Regions from separate parts of the Homo sapiens genome. Here regions 1, 3 and 4 are each reported to be linked to region 2. Evidence: microRNA targets listed by miRTarBase, many of them from high-throughput screens and not tested one by one. Region 2 holds a microRNA gene; each other region holds the end of a gene's coding sequence. Distances are from middle to middle.
Evidence for each region. Region 2 holds the annotated microRNA hsa-miR-135b-5p (UAUGGCUUUUCAUUCCUAUGUGA, at 2,697-2,719, shown strand). A microRNA usually pairs through its seed, bases 2 to 8, with sites in the 3' UTR of a target mRNA and lowers its output. Matches are read on the target gene's strand: a 7mer-m8 pairs with bases 2 to 8, a 7mer-A1 pairs with bases 2 to 7 and ends in A, and an 8mer does both.

Region 1: miRTarBase lists LDHA as a target of hsa-miR-135b-5p. The part of its 3' UTR that is shown has no 7-base or 8-base seed match.
Region 3: the mRNA of TOX4 is a reported target of hsa-miR-135b-5p. The part of its 3' UTR that is shown has no 7-base or 8-base seed match.
Region 4: the mRNA of TTLL7 is a reported target of hsa-miR-135b-5p. Seed matches in the 3' UTR shown: 7mer-m8 at 1,822-1,828.

What each region holds. Positions count from the first base shown.
Region 1 is chr11:18,406,801-18,410,800 of GRCh38, forward strand. It overlaps LDHA (lactate dehydrogenase A), which reads left to right. Exons shown (of 8, transcript NM_005566.4): 8 at 317-1,625. The coding sequence ends at 481. Among named protein-coding and RNA genes, the nearest start is that of LDHC, 3.5 kb to the right of the region's middle.
Region 2 is chr1:205,446,808-205,451,079 of GRCh38, reverse strand. MIR135B (microRNA 135b) reads left to right here and starts at 2,682; the gene lies at 2,682-2,778. The region is part of intron 1 of BLACAT1 (BLACAT1 overlapping LEMD1 locus); the gene reads left to right. It also overlaps a transcript of LEMD1 not described here. RefSeq lists a silencer at 888-1,097.
Region 3 is chr14:21,496,347-21,500,346 of GRCh38, forward strand. It overlaps TOX4 (TOX high mobility group box family member 4), which reads left to right. Exons shown (of 9, transcript NM_014828.4): 9 at 200-2,824. The coding sequence ends at 260. It overlaps METTL3 (methyltransferase 3, N6-adenosine-methyltransferase complex catalytic subunit), which reads right to left. Exons shown (of 11, transcript NM_019852.5): 7 at 3,418-3,456; 8 at 3,146-3,254; 9 at 2,960-3,025; 10 at 2,679-2,791; 11 at 1,792-2,023. The coding sequence ends at 1,912. Among named protein-coding and RNA genes, the nearest start is that of METTL3, 13 kb to the right of the region's middle. RefSeq lists enhancers at 2,326-2,415, 2,446-2,495.
Region 4 is chr1:83,866,283-83,870,282 of GRCh38, forward strand. TTLL7 (tubulin tyrosine ligase like 7) reads right to left here. Exons shown (of 21, transcript NM_024686.6): 21 at 1-3,800. The coding sequence ends at 3,680. Among named protein-coding and RNA genes, the nearest start is that of LINC01725, 7.3 kb to the left of the region's middle.

The sequences.
Region 1 (4,000 bases), not on the chromosome of region 2:
GTCAAGAATTTGAGACCAACCTGGCCAACATGGTGAAACCCCATCTGTACTAAACATACAAAAATTAGCCAAGTGTGGTGGCGCACGCCTGTAGTCCCAGAAGGCTGAAGCAGGAGAATTACTTGAACCCTGGAGGTGGAGGTTGCGGTGAGCTGAGATCGTGCCACTGCACTCCAGCCTGGGCGACAGAGCGAGACTCTGCCTCAAAAAAAAATTAAAAAAAAAAAGCTTTATAATTATAGAGACTGTAAGTCTTGGGAAACCTGGGAATGCATAGACAAAATGTGAGATTTTTTTTTTTTCATTTCATCTTCAGGGTCTTTACGGAATAAAGGATGATGTCTTCCTTAGTGTTCCTTGCATTTTGGGACAGAATGGAATCTCAGACCTTGTGAAGGTGACTCTGACTTCTGAGGAAGAGGCCCGTTTGAAGAAGAGTGCAGATACACTTTGGGGGATCCAAAAGGAGCTGCAATTTTAAAGTCTTCTGATGTCATATCATTTCACTGTCTAGGCTACAACAGGATTCTAGGTGGAGGTTGTGCATGTTGTCCTTTTTATCTGATCTGTGATTAAAGCAGTAATATTTTAAGATGGACTGGGAAAAACATCAACTCCTGAAGTTAGAAATAAGAATGGTTTGTAAAATCCACAGCTATATCCTGATGCTGGATGGTATTAATCTTGTGTAGTCTTCAACTGGTTAGTGTGAAATAGTTCTGCCACCTCTGACGCACCACTGCCAATGCTGTACGTACTGCATTTGCCCCTTGAGCCAGGTGGATGTTTACCGTGTGTTATATAACTTCCTGGCTCCTTCACTGAACATGCCTAGTCCAACATTTTTTCCCAGTGAGTCACATCCTGGGATCCAGTGTATAAATCCAATATCATGTCTTGTGCATAATTCTTCCAAAGGATCTTATTTTGTGAACTATATCAGTAGTGTACATTACCATATAATGTAAAAAGATCTACATACAAACAATGCAACCAACTATCCAAGTGTTATACCAACTAAAACCCCCAATAAACCTTGAACAGTGACTACTTTGGTTAATTCATTATATTAAGATATAAAGTCATAAAGCTGCTAGTTATTATATTAATTTGGAAATATTAGGCTATTCTTGGGCAACCCTGCAACGATTTTTTCTAACAGGGATATTATTGACTAATAGCAGAGGATGTAATAGTCAACTGAGTTGTATTGGTACCACTTCCATTGTAAGTCCCAAAGTATTATATATTTGATAATAATGCTAATCATAATTGGAAAGTAACATTCTATATGTAAATGTAAAATTTATTTGCCAACTGAATATAGGCAATGATAGTGTGTCACTATAGGGAACACAGATTTTTGAGATCTTGTCCTCTGGAAGCTGGTAACAATTAAAAACAATCTTAAGGCAGGGTGCAGTGGCTCATGCCTATAATCCCAGCACTTTGGGAAGCCCAGGTGGGCTGATCACTGGAGGCCAGGAATTGGGGACCAGCCTGGCCAACACAACAAAACCCCATCTGTTAAAAAAACAAAACAAAACCAAAAAAAACAAGTAACCTTGGTGGATGTCTACTCAAGTTTTCTGCACATTTTTCTGAAAATACAACTGTGACCCTTATCCAGGCCTGAAAACCATACTTGTAAAGGTTAACTGAACAACATTATTGTCATTCCCAACTCCAGGATCTTTTTCCAAAGATTCTTTCCTGAGAGCTAGTTAAGGGAAGGAATTATCTTAAAGCCTGGTTGTCCAATCTTTTGCTTTCCCTGAGCCACATTGGAAGAAGAATTGTCTTGGGCCACACATTAAATACACTAACATGTGCCAGCTGTGGTGGCTGACACCTATAATCCCAGCACTTGGGGAGGCTGAGGCGGGTGGATCAGGAGTTCAAGACTAGCATGGCCAACATGGTGAAACCCCATCTGTACTAAAAATCGAAAGATTTGCCAGGTATGGTGGCCTATGCTTGTAATCCCAGCTACTTGGGAAGCTGAGGCACAAGAGGCTGAGGTGAGAGGATCGCTTGAACCGGGGAGGCAGAGATTGAAGTGAGCCAAGATGGCACCACTGCACTCGAGCCTGGGCAACACAGCGAGACTGTCTCAATAAAAATTAAAGAAATTAACACTAATGATAGCTGATGAGCTACAAAAAAGTTCATGATCTGGATACCTGCTGCCACCTAAAGAGTCCTCACATTCAAAGGGTTGGACACAGCTATAAAGCGTATCGTTCTGTGGATTTTTAGTGTATTCACATAGTTGGCAACCATCACCAGTATCTAATCTTAGAATATAGGCTGGGTGCAGTGGCTTCAAATTCCCAGCACTTTAGGAGGCCAAGGTGGGTAGATTGCTTGAGCCCAGGAGTTCCAGACCAGTCTGGGCAACATGGCAAAAGCCTGTCTCTACAAAAAAGAAATTAGCTAGGCGTGGTGGCAGGTGCCTGTAGTCCTAGCTGCACAGGAGGCTCAGGTGGGAGGATCCCTTGAACCCGGGAGATAAAGGTTGCAGTGAGCCAAGATCCCACCACTGTACTCCAGCCTGGGTGACAGAGTGAGACCCTGTTTCAAAAAAAAAAAAAAGAATATTTTAATTAGCACAAAAAGAGGCCTGTACTTAATCCTGTAGCCTTTTGTAAACTTTGAGTCACCTTCAGTCTTTAAAATTTTTAAATTTACATTAATTTTATATTATTTGATACAATAAATTAGTCAATACCAACATGACTGAAAAATAATATTTAAGTGAAATAGACTGATTCTATTAATCTTTCATGAATTTTCAAATGCAATCTTGTAAAGTTTCCTTACTTATGGGCAAAATAAATGTTCCAGGTTCAGTTTGTACCTTCCTGCCCCAGGCAAGGAATAGGCCAACTCTGCAAAGAAACTTGATTTTTTTTTTCCATAGTAACCTTGGGAACTAAATTAAGCAGGCCTTATCCCCATCTCACAGAAGTTGCCAGTTAGTGTAGAAGCAAATGTGATGCTCAGAACATGGTTCTACTTCCTTTTTTTCCCCCACTAAAGCCCATGTTGCCAAAATAAAACTCAGTACTTCAAAGCCATGTTCTTTAAAAATTCTTTAAATTTTTTTTTTATTTTGGCCAGGTGCGGTGGCTCACGCCTGTAATCCCAGCACTTTGGGAGGCTGAGGCGGGTGGATCACAAGGTCAGGAGATTGAAAACATCCTGGCTAACATAGTGAAACTCCATCTCTACTAAAAATACAAAAAATTAGCTGGGCATGGTGGCGGGCGCCTGTAGTCCCAGCTACTCGGGAGGCTGAGGCAGGAGAATGGCGTGAACCCGGGAGGCGGAGCTTGCAGTGAGCCGAGATCGGACCACTGTACTACAGCCTGGGCGAGACTGCGAGACTCTGTCTCAAAAAAAATTATTTTATTTTATTTTGTTTTTATTTTTGGGGGTAGAGATGGGGGTCTCCCTATGTTGCCAGACTGGTCTTGAACTCCTGGGCTGAAGCCTCGGCCTCCCAAAGTGCTGGGATTGCAGGAGTGAGCCACCATGTCTGGCCCAAAAATTCTTTAGTGAGTACCTACTATGCTTTGGTAAATGTTGCAATGTACAAGAATAAATAAAGACAAATTTTGGTTCTAAAGTTACTGCAATCAAGTAAGCAAAATGTTAAGTAAGTTTGGAGTATTTGGGCAGGCATGGATGAAGAGCCAGTTCTAGTCATCTAGCATCAGTTTGGCCACTACCAAGCTGATACCTTCCTTGGCCGCCAGGGGCCTGAGGCAGGTGTAGAGCTTAAATTTCCAGTCCATCCAGGCCAGCAATCTCCCTCTCAGCCCGGGGATAAATGAGGTTGCTGTGGAGGTATAGGACCAAGTGGTTGCTGCTCCTGTCTGCTATAGGAGGCCTCTAGCTTCAGGCTAGTTGCTGGTTGAGAAAAGTGCCATAAGAGAGAGATATACAGGAAATGATGGTAGTTGACATTTGTCAAGGAAAGCCAGAGTATGTATGT
Region 2 (4,272 bases):
CCTTGGGCCCCTTGGGCTGCTGGGCCCCAGTTCTCACCACCAGCAAGCTGCAGAAAGGTTGTGGTGGCCCCAGAGGAGACAGGAATCGTGGGCATGGCCCCATCTTGAGGAGAGGGAGTCCTCGAGGTTCTCGCCCAGCAGTGGCCTTTCACTGCCCAGGTTCTCGGGATTGGAGGAAGCAGGGTTTTCCTCGGGAAAGGAGGTGAGGCTTGACCTGCTTCCTCTTTCTCCATATTTCAAGTGAGGTTCACTCCAGCCTGAGACATGATGGCTGTCCCCACCTCCATCCCCAGCCCAGTCCCTCTGGCCCAGACACACCTTAGAGAGAGATGCCCTACTTCCACAGCTTACTTGGGGCTTGTCAGGTGGGCTGGGATTGGTAGGCAGGCCAGGGGCTGAGCCCTTCATGTGCCCAGGGATAGGCAGCTGGGATTGGCAGGCTATGGCTGGGAATCCGAGCGCAGGACTGGGTGAGGGTGGGTGGAGGGGGCCAGGCTCGAGCAGGTCTGAGAAAGGAAATGGAAGGACAGATAAGTGCTGACCTTGTCCTCCCAGGGCAGGGGAGTGGTGGGAGCAGAATAGGGGTATGGGTGAGGAGAGGAACCAGGGCTGCGGAGAAGGGGAGGGGGGCCAGGCAGGAGAGGGGGGCCTGCAGGGAGCCGTCTCAGGTCTCCTGCCAAAAATTAAACTATAAAAAAGCTGGAGGGGAGCGGCAGGGGAAGGAAGGAGAGAAAGGAGATGGGGAGGGAGGGAGGGACCAAACAGCCCCTCTGCACCAATAGCCCGGCAGGGGGACGTGAGTAATACATGGCTGGTTCAGAGGGAGTGAGATCAAAAGCCAGTAGATACAAGAGGTTTGTGCTTCACCGACCAGACAGCCAGAGGCTCAATGAGACCTTTGTTACTCAGGCCCAAGTCAGGGTTGAAGGAATACCTGGCTGCCCCGCCTGCCCAGCCCGCCCCCACCCCCACCCCCACCGTCCTCAGGGCTGGGGGAGGGGCCGGTCACAAGTGAGTCAAGTTGAGTTGGGTACAGCTCAGCCCTGGCCGGTGGTGGGCGGGCAGGGGGAGGGAGGAGGCCTGCCCTCGCTGGGGCGTGGAGCTTCTCGGGGTGAGTGGAGGAGTGAGTGGCTGCCTGGAAGGCAGGAAGTGGCTCTGCGGGGAATTGTGAGGCGGACTGCGAGGGAAAGGGGGCCTTGTTGAGTCCGCCAGGTGAGCAGCCCCTGGGACCCCCAGCCCCTGGCCCAGCATCCCTTGGGAGGGAGCTGAGGGCATTCTGCCTAGAGTCCATGGCTTTATGCAGGGCCTGGGTCTGGGGTTCTGGGGGCCCATGAGAGAGGAAGGAAAGGAGAACCAGAGGGGGTTGGGGCTGGGGCAGATGGCCCAAAGTTCAGGTGGGAGGCCGCAGGATGCCTGGTTGTTTGGCCCTGAAGGTTGGGCATGTCTGGAGTGTGTGGAGGGGCGTGCTGTGCTGTGCTGTGTGCTGTGTGCTGTGCTGTGCTGTGCTGTTGTTGGGGAATGCAGGATTCCTGTCCAGTGAAAACAGGTTGCTTCTACCAGGGTTGTGCAGGGAGCCAGCAAGTGTTGCCCTGGGGCTGAGGGTACAGTTGGGGTGGGAGAGGCAGCTACTCCCTGGCAGAGGCAGGGCCTGATCTGGGCCTGGGGCCTCTTACCATCTTCTTGGGGGCCCCTGGGAGAGGTCTGAGGCCCCTGGGGCTTTCCTGAGCCTGGGCTAGCAGGAGCCCTAGAAGCCCACTTCTCTGAAGCTGATGCCTGCAGCTGACCCGTCATGGGAGCGGGTGGGGAAATAGCACTTGTGATTAGAACACACCTTTTCCAGGGCCCTGAGACCTTGGTTCGCCTTAACTCAGCTCTTCAATCCAGTCCTAGAGATGTCTGTGCTAACCCCCATGTCCTGCCAATGAGAGCGGCAGGGCACTGCGCACCCCTCCCACAGCCTTGTCAGGGATGGCTCCAGAGTGAGCTGCCCTCAGCTTGGGGAGGTTTCAGCTGAAGCCCTCTTTCTGACTCCAACCAGGTCTGGAGACAGAGATCTCACTCTCCTCTAAACTATGCAAGAATGGGTGTTGTCGGTAACCACCCAGACTGGTCTGGGTAGGTTGGCCCAGCCCCCACCCCTGGGGGCACTCAAGAAACCTATTTAACCCCTCTAAACAAAGGGTAGGTCCTCATCGCTGCCCTCCTTTACCCAGACCCTCCTTTGCCCTCTGTGCTTCCAGTGGCTGGACTAGAAAGAGTTAAGCTTTGTAAAGAGGGAGCCTAACCTGGGGCCCCCCATCCTGGGTACTGGCAGCAGCAGCCTTGAAAAGATCCGGCCTTATTCTCTAGGGAAGGGGTAGTTAAGGACCCTGGGCAGGGGGCTGGAAGCTAATTAAGGGAATTTGAGGAGGTCCTTTATGGCCAGGAAGCCACCCCTCCTCATACCCTGGAGTGAGGACCATTGTGTGAGGCCTTTGTAGGGCAAGAACTGGAAACTCATTACTGGGATGGCTTTAGTGCAGGTGGTGGAAGATGGTGAGAGAATTTAACCTGGGGGGCCCAGTCCTGGAGGGAGGCAGTGTGGGTGGGTCTGGGGTCGGGGGTGCTGAGAAGGGGAGTGAGGGCTTCTCGGGTGCCCCAGCTTCTCGCTTCCCTATGAGATTCCTGCCGCTGGACCCCTCCACTCTGCTGTGGCCTATGGCTTTTCATTCCTATGTGATTGCTGTCCCAAACTCATGTAGGGCTAAAAGCCATGGGCTACAGTGAGGGGCGAGCTCCTTCTCCTGCGCAGCTGCACCTCCCATGGGACCAGGTTCGGAGCCAGCCACCAAGGGGCACCAGAAGGAGGCTTTGCTTGGGGGTGGGGCATCACGGGATCTGGTAACCTGGGATCGGGGCTAAGCCGTGTGACCTTGGCCCAGTCACTTCCCTTCTGGCCCTGTTTCCTCACTCTGGAATGAAGAGACTGGGCCGGTGATTCCAGAGGGAGATTCCCTCTGAGGAAGGAAGGAGACCTTCAGGGTGTGCTGAGCTTTCTGAGTCGGTTCCTTCCCCCTTGCCAAATTACTGAGGCCTGGCTTATGGCCAGAGATTTGGGGGCTGAAGTCAAGGGCCTCAGGCCATGAAGACTTGGGCCTTTGCTCAGTGCCTCCAGGAAAACCTCACTCCTTCACTCCTTTCTCTGAGGTCAGCTTGGAATCTGCAGCCTTTTTTCTGTGTAAGGAGACCTCTGGGCTCTTTCTGAGGCTGAAATGGGAACACTCCATGCCGGCCACGAGGGAAGAGGAGGTGTCTGCAGAGTGAAACTAGGAAGGCAGGCGCTCCCCCGGGCGACAGGCTGGACTCCAGGGTCCCTGGCTCCTGGTGTGCTACCATCTCCAGGAGCTGCCCCCTCCTGCGGTGTGTGAAGGGCACCAGCCCTCCCTGCCCCCGTCCTGCTTGTCACTCAGCTTGCCTGGCTCCTCCCTATGCCTGTCGCCACTCCCACATTCCTTCCCCTGCCCCCTTTTAAATCGGCCTGATTTTAGCCCTCCCATCCTGGAAGATTCCAACAGGTGGCTGTGGTGGAAGAGGAAGCATCCTCGTACCCCGCCTCCTACTCCCTGTTCCAGTCCCCAGTCTGTCTAAGACAGACCACTGAAGAATCACAGAAAGCACTAGATTTGGTATTGACAATCAGAAGGCAAGTTTCTTATAATATCTCAGAGCCCTTAATTTCACCAACCAACACTTACTGGGTACCTACTATGTACCCCATGATTCTAACCGCCTCACCTGCACTAACCCATTTCATCCTCAAGACAGTCCTGTCTACTGTTAGCCTATTTAACTTATGGGAATTCTGAGGCACAGGGAGCTAAGAAATTGGCCCACGTTCATATGGATAGGAAGGAGCACAACTGGGACGTGAACCCACGTGGTCTGGTGCCAAAACCCATGCTCTTAGCACATCATGCTGCATATTGGGAGAGCCAACACCAGTGCATGGGAAAGTACTCTGAAAACCAGGGAGTGCTGTACCCAGACGGGAGGTTGTTCTCACGAGATCTCTATTGGATGCACGTCCACAAATTGGCCCCGTGGCCCAACTCCAATCACCCTTTGTCCATCACTGGTTTTCCTTTTCCCACAGGAGGTCGGGGGGAGCGGGGGGATCAGAACAATAGGAGAAGCAAAGAGAAATCCCAAGCCAGCTGGGTTTTTGCTGGGGCTGATCCAGGCTACTTCCCCTCCTGCCCCAGCTTAGATGGTGAAAGGAACAAGGCATGAGAA
Region 3 (4,000 bases), not on the chromosome of region 2:
GAAACCCTGTCCCCACTAAAAATACAAAAAATTGGCCGGGCATGGTGGTGGGCACCTGTAGTCCCAGCTACTCGGGAGGCTAAGGCAGGAGAATGGCGTGAACCCATGAGGTCCGTCTCAAAAAAAAAAATGTATCTAGGCTGTAATTCTATTTCAGTTTGTGTATAATTCTGTTTGTGTATGTCTTTTTCTCTCTTAGGGATGTATTCTTGGCCTGGGTAGCCTCTAGAAATTCAAACACAGTGGTGTTTGTGAAATAGTCCTTCCTGTTCTCCAAGCCAGTGAAGAGTTATCTGCTGGGAAAGTGTCCAAGAGCCTGTTTTTGAAACACAAGCTGGGCTTCTGGTAGTGCCTCATCACAACCCATGATGGCTGTTCATGTTTCACCCCTTTTCTTCCTTCAGCAGAGGCCAGGCTATGGAGCAGGGCCACTGAATTTGCTGTAATCTGGAGATGCTTTTTACTTTCAACCATAAGCGGTAATAGCAGAGGAAAGGGTGAAGGGAGTCTGGGCAAGCAAAGCATAGAGATGGTGGGGTGGTGGTGGGGTTGAAGAAACTTGTTGGTATAATTGTCATAGGACTTGCCTAAAATATTATTAAAATTACGGGAGTGTACTCAGCTTTGAGCCTAGGAGAAAATGCCACTGTGTGCATCCATTTTAAAGGGTTCCCTCATAAAAAAATGTTATTCCCCATTATCACATCAGTACACTGCTTTGAAAACAAAACTTTTCAACATGGGCATACTGGGCTACATGGAAAATGACATCACCCAGGAGTGATTTCTCTTTATATATATTATTTCTGCAGTTACCATCCTTATCTGAGTTATCACAGTTCATGAATCTAAGAGGCGGAACTCTACATCATTAGTAAGAGGTTCCACCAAAGTCTAAAGTTGTATTCACTTGTGTTTGATGAACTATCTTTAAAAGACCATAGGTCTATCATTATTTCTTAGACATAATCTAAAGAAAAACAGACTAGAGAAGCCACCTGGTTGTAACAGAATAAGCAGAAGTTTACAGCATGATAGTCCAAGTGGTGATAACTTTAAATAAAACTCAAATTTTTACTGTTTGTAGACAGGAATGCTGTCCTAGAGAACCTCCTCCTCAACCAGCTACGTACATAGTTTTATCCTATGCATTCCTGTTTTCTGTGTGTTTTTTGTTTTTTTTTTTTTTTTTTTTTTTTGAGACAGAGTCTCGCTCTGTCACCCAGGCTGGAGTGCAGTGGTGCGACCTCAGCTCACTGAAACCTCTGCCTCCCGGGTTCAAGCGATTCTCCTGCATCAGCCTCCCGAGTAGCTAGGATTACAGGCGCCCGCCACTACGCCCAGCTAATTTGTGGTATTTTTAGTAGAGACAGGGTTTCACCATGTTGGCCAGGCTGGTCTCGAACTCCTGACCTCATGATCCGCCCGCCTTGACCTCCCAAAGTGCTGGGATTACAGGCATGAGCCACCGCACCCAGCCTGCATTCCTGTTTTTTTAATGGTTTTGGAGGGTAGCAGTAGAGATGGGGTCTCACTATGTTGCCCAGTCTAGTCTTGAACTCCTGGGCTACAGTTACCCTCCTACCTCGGCTTCCCAAAGTGCTCGGATTACAGGTGTGAGCCACTGTGCCTAGCCTATAATGATCATTTTAATGTTTCCCATGCACTCATTTAGTTTGAACCTTCACAGCAACCCAATGAGGTAATACTCCCATTTCACATATAATACTGAGAGATGAGTTGCACAAGATTATACACTGTTAAGTAGCAGAGCCAGAATGGACTTCAGAATCCCAACTACAATACAAATGTTTATTTAAATAAAGAAGAAAGCTATTGTACAAATATCACTCTTCAGGTTTAGCTTACAGAGCCATGGCTATGGATTCTTAGCTCTGTAAGGAAGTGCTTCTATAAATTCTTAGGTTTAGAGATGATACCATCTGGGTACCTTTGCTTGAACCGTGCAACCACATCTGGGTCTAGTAGGTGGATCCCATCCAGTTGGTTTCCAAGGGTGATCCTGAAACAGTGTAAAAGGAGGGGCAAACCAGAAATCCTGGAATTAGAGGGTTTAATATTGTTAAAAAATGCATACCAAATGAAGACTGCCTATCATCATATCAAATATGCCAATTCTAAAAAGAGCTTAACATTAGAATAGTATATGGTAGAATTACTAGTTCAGAATTGGCATAGATTCTGGTGTTAAAATAGACTGGATCTGTATTATCTGAGGGTTAGTAACTAATGCTTAGCCAGGCCTGCTTCACAGAGTTGCTACCAGGGAGTATTCTTTGGATAAGCAAAATGCTAGCAGCATGTGTTTTAAGCTCTGTTAAGGGGTGAAAGATGTAATTATTGACAGATTAAATAGATAACTTCGTAACCACCAGGGGGCAGATTCAATACATCACAGAATGGCTGAGGAAGATCCTTGGGTTGTGAAGAGAGTAGAAACCCTAGGGAGCAGTGCTTTTGGGTCCTAGAACCTGTTGAGTTTCTAATGAATATTTGTAGAATCTCATAAAACAGTTTAAATACAAGCTTAAGTGGCTTATGAATCCTGTGAAGCTCATTTATGGACTAGTGTAAAACAATGTGAAGCTCTACTAAGTTCTGTCCTTAATCATAAATAATAGCCCCTTGAGGACTAGCCTGTTCTCTGGTCACCTTACCAGTTGGGTTGCACATTGTGTGGTCGTCCAAATAACTCAATCTTGCGAGTGCCAGGAGATAGTCTTTCAATCATGCCATAGATTTCATCTGGTTTATGACTGGTGGAACGAACCTAGGAAATAAAAACTAGCTGCTTTTTAAGTTACACAAGATTGCAATTCTAGCCCTTTCTATTATGTTTATGATCTAAATGAGAAAAATCTGGGATGAGAATACACCCAACATGAATAACTGATACCAACAAAAATGTGGAAGCTTTGGAGGCCTGGGAAGCACATACCTCAGCTACGATCACATCACAATCCAGACCCTGGTTGAAGCCTTGGGGATTTCCTTTGACACCAACCTGCTCACCACAGATAACAGATTACCTTATGAAACCACACCTTTGAACTTTTTCTCAGTAAGAAATCAAATGATTCTTCTTTGTGCTCCACCTATTGAATTGGGCCCCACTGCTGCTCACCAAGCAGTGTTCCTTCCCATGGTTCAACCAGTGACCTGTACGGCCTGTCCGAATGATGCGTTGCAGTTGATTTGTCTTCACCCAAATAATTTCATCTACCCGTTCATACCTGTGGGGCATAAAAAAGAACTAGAATTTTAGCCAAACTTTTACAGTTTAGGGGTAGTACCATTTATAGAAGCAAGGAATCACAGAATAGTCTGGGAGAAGAGAACATGTATCTCACTGTAACAGTATTACCCTCAAAAGAAAGCAACACAACCACTACTTACCCCCAGAGGTTTAGACATTCTCTCCCCAACTCCATGGCCCTAGAAAGAAATGAGTTAAACAACTATTTGTATGCCCATATTTTTTTTCCCTTCAAAATATGTGATGTGTTAAAAACACTATAAACACTTTTTCAGTAGACGCTCAGTGAACATTTACATGCACACCACCAAAAGCATGGTGGATCTAAGAACGAAAAGATAAAACTATGCTCAACAACCTTACCTTTCTCAAAGAACAAATGTAGAGTTAAATATATATTCGGGGTAAAATTTGCATTGTAAACAGGCATTAGGACTCAGTAGAAAAAAAGACTGGCTGGGCATGGTAGCTCACGCCTGTAATCCCAGCACTTTAGGAGCTCGAGGTGAGTGGATCACAAGGTCAGGAGATAGAGACCATCCTGGCTAACATGGTGAAATCCAGTCTCTACTAAAAATACAAAAAGAAAAAATTAGCTGGGCTGGTGGCACGTGCCTGTAATCCCAGCTACTCAGGAGGCTGAGGCAGGAGAATTGCTTGAACCTGGGAGGTGGAGGTTGCAGTGAGCTGAGATCACACTACTGCACTCCAGCCTAAGCAACA
Region 4 (4,000 bases), 120 Mb from region 2:
TAATGTATATGCTTAAATCTAAAGAAATTTTTTAACTATTAGTACTTTGACATGCTAAAGAAGAACGTATTTGGATTATTAAAACATCTGAAATTTCAAGTTAGATACAAAATTCCATACTCATATATTTTACAAATTAAAAAGACAGTTAAAATGAAATCTTTTTATTGATGTCTAGAAGCTACTATTATCTAGTTGGGTATAACTATTAGATGAAAAGAAGTTTAGGTTTCTTCATTTGGGTTTGGTTTGGTTTTAGTTTTAGGGAGAAAGAAATAGTTGAAACTGTTTGTATATTTAGAAATAATTTTGACCTATGATAAAATTTGTATAGATCTTTGCATCTTACCGACAACCAAGGACATTCAACTATGTTCTAGGCAGAGTTACCATTGCCATTTCCATATTTGATCCTGTTACAACTTCATTTTTACATATTTAAGGTAAATGCAATGCTACTAAAATAAAAATTTGTTGCTAGTAAAATTAATCAAAATATGAATAACAATAGTTTCTTCAATAGATTATATAGAGCAAATGGTAACTAATCTATAATGATGGATTAGTCAAGTGAAAACTAGTTTGCAGTCTCAGACTACGTTTGTAAGTGATGATTTAAAATAAAAAAGGTTGTTTCTTAGACATTTCTAGAAATTATTCAAATATTGCATAGTTCTAGAAAGCATTCCAATCTTAGATTTACTGAATGAGCAGGGATATGTTTTTCTATAGCAGAATGAAAATATGCTTTCATTGTAAGTAAACCCAGTTCCCCTATTAAAAACCTCTGGTAAGATTAAGTAGCTTTTGGAGTTTTCAAATAAAGCTATTTTCTCTCCTAGAAAAGGGAGTCACACCTGTACAATCACTTATGCTTATATGTTTTAACCTATGAATAAAAATTTATAATAAAAACTTGGGAATATTTTATACCTCTAAATCATTTCCATGGCCTCCCAACACTTCCATGGTTTATTGTTGTGTCTTCTCTTAGTTGCTCATTAGGGAATAGCACTACAGCAGACACAGTCCATAGCATACCAGGTAGTATATATAAATAATGAACACAAGGCTTTTATTCACAACTTCATCATATCAAACTACATCAGTCTAAATAGGCAAATGAAGGCAATAAAATTGTAACGCTCAAAATAAGGCCAGACATAAGTAGCTAGAGAAATGAAATTTATTTGTTGAAATCAATTTGTGGGGTACTTTCATACATTTAAATTTACTCAGTTTTTAAATTGTGTGTGTGTGTGTGTGTGTGTTTTCTGTGAGGAGTGTTTCTCCTAGTGATGGGCATTCTTATTTTTTGTTTTAAATACAAATTTTGCTCTGGTACAAAAGTTGCAAAGCACACACTCCAGCAAATTAAGTAATTATTTGTGATTTAAGATAATGCAAATGAGTGGCCGAGAAACTGGGCTGTTATCATATATCAGACACTTATATATATATTTTTGTGGCCAAATCATGAATTTAAAAGAAAAATGAACTCCATGAAAAGACTTATTACTTGTTGATCATCTTTATGGTGATTCTGTAATATCCCAATTTTTGCATTATTTTTTCTAAAAAAAAATCCATAGCATATTTAAGAATTCACAAAATGGAGTCATAAACAGTGTAGTCACTGTAATTTCCTTCATTCTGATACCCTTATTCTCTTCTTCCACAAATAGCAAATTCTTCTTTGGGATGCATGCAGAGAGGAAAAGTATCTACCAAATGTGGATGTTAGGTAGCCATAAAAAATCAAGTAGCTAGCAATAATTTGGGAAATAAACAAATCATTTCAGCCTAAAAAAGGCTCAGAAGATGGCTTGAAAAGCAAAATACATCTAACTTATAACTTTAGGTTGCCAATTCTTCAGGCTGTGAATTAAACCAGGCCAATTTGCCCCTCTCAGTTCTCCTGCTTTGGGGCCACTTCTTGAAATAACTTTCAGAATAGTAAAAGGAGGTAAAACATTCATGAATTTCGAAAATAATTAGCAGCTAAAAGAAAATAAAACTGTTGGGAGAAGAAGTTTAAATAAATTCTAAGAAGTGATGGCTGCACTGATGATTTCAATGTCAAAGTAGTACGGCTTATATTTTTATGGAAAACTGAAAGCTCACTCTTGGTTTTAAAAACTGTATTCAAGAAAAGGAAGTAAACTGCTATGAAACTTATGCATAACAACTTTGGACAAGAACACTTCGTTCTCTGTTTTGATTTTTTAAAAACCCTCAAGGGTACACTGATGACTTGTAATATGTGATAATTGAAATCTTCTATTCACAATCCTTTAACTGTTTCTGTGGTGCAATGAGAAACTACTGTATTAGAATTTGCAATATAAGTTGATTTCAACCTTGAGAGATTTATAAAAATAAGTTTGTCTCATTATCCTGTAACACTAAAATGAGTGAAATGTGTCAACTCTTCTACTTCTGCGAAACAGGAGAAATTGTATTTAACCACATGTTAAACCCATCAAAGATATACTTTCCAAATAAAAATGAGTGGTATAAGACATAAAAGCCATATAGAAAGATTTTGTTACCATCATTTTCTGTTCCTTTATGTGATTATGAAAAGTAAAAATGAAAGCTAGTTTACATTTTATTTTTAACCCATTGGATTGTCTTCCATTTTATTTATTTATTTTTATCTTCTTTTTATTTATTTATTTATTTTATTTTATTATTATTTTTTTTTTTTGAGACAGAGTTTCACTCTTGTCACCCAGGCTAGAATGCAATGGCACAATCTCGGCTCACTGCAACCTCCGCCTCCCAGGTTCAAGTGATTCTCCTGTCTCAGCCGCCCAAGTAGCTGGGATTACAAGCACTTACCATCACGCCCAGCTAATTTTTGTATTTTTAGTAGAGATGGGGTTTCACCATGTTGGCCAGGCTAGTCTCAAACTCCTGACCAGCGGTGATCCACTCACCTCGGCCTCCCAAAGTGCTGGAATTACAGGCGTGAGCCACCGCGCCCAGCCTGTCTTTCATGTTAGATCATAATATGATCTCACCAGATCCTTACTGAAAATGTACCTTATTACAAGTAGCTAAATTTCCACATAGAGGAATAAAAAGATTGGAGAATCAGGTTATGACTTTTCTAGCACTTTACAGTGTGCTATAGTAATGATAAACCCGTTTTAAACTTCTTAATCTTATCATCAAGCAACACCAGGCTTCTAAATCTTTTTGTTTCATTTAAAATGGCTACTATATATGAGAATTTTTAAGGTATTATACTAAACCCTTTTTCAGGTCAAAAGGCATGTTATCTAGAAAATAATTTAACACTGTAATTGGATCTTCAAGATCAATTTGTTTTATATACTCTGCAGCAAAAATAACATTTCTAGTAGGAAGGAATTAATTATAAACCTAGCAGATTCTAGACATTCACATATTTGTGTAAACAATTTTAACATGGTTTATTACGTTTCCAGAAAGGTTAAGTCTTATATTCCATTTTCTGCTAATTCTTCTTTCATATATCATTTAATATAATAAATATATGTTATTAGGGTGCATATGTGCATATATTTTCACACATATATATGTCTTATATACATAAAACAGCACTTAATGGTCATGTTCTTTGCATGTTCAACTTCAGAGGAAAAAAATGAATTGCTGTTATGTATAACCAATGGCGATCTTCCCTTCTGTTTCACAGATGGCCATATCTGGATGTAAACAAAACATTGGAGCGAGTCATTCCAGGTGAATTGTACTTCAAGTTGTAGGTTGGTGTTCTCAAGAAGAATTGGGTGCTCCCTGGTAGTAAATACCTAAAAATGATGGTTAACAAATTAGATTTTTACAAGCAAATTATAACTAACTCACTAAAGGGTTATGTGGTTAGCAATTTACGTAGTCTATATGAGAAATGTTACTGTAACAAAAATGCAATTCATATAAAAAGATTTCCTCCTCCAGACTGTAGGAAAGGAGAGAAGAGCTAAATATAGATGCAATATATGATGTTAGC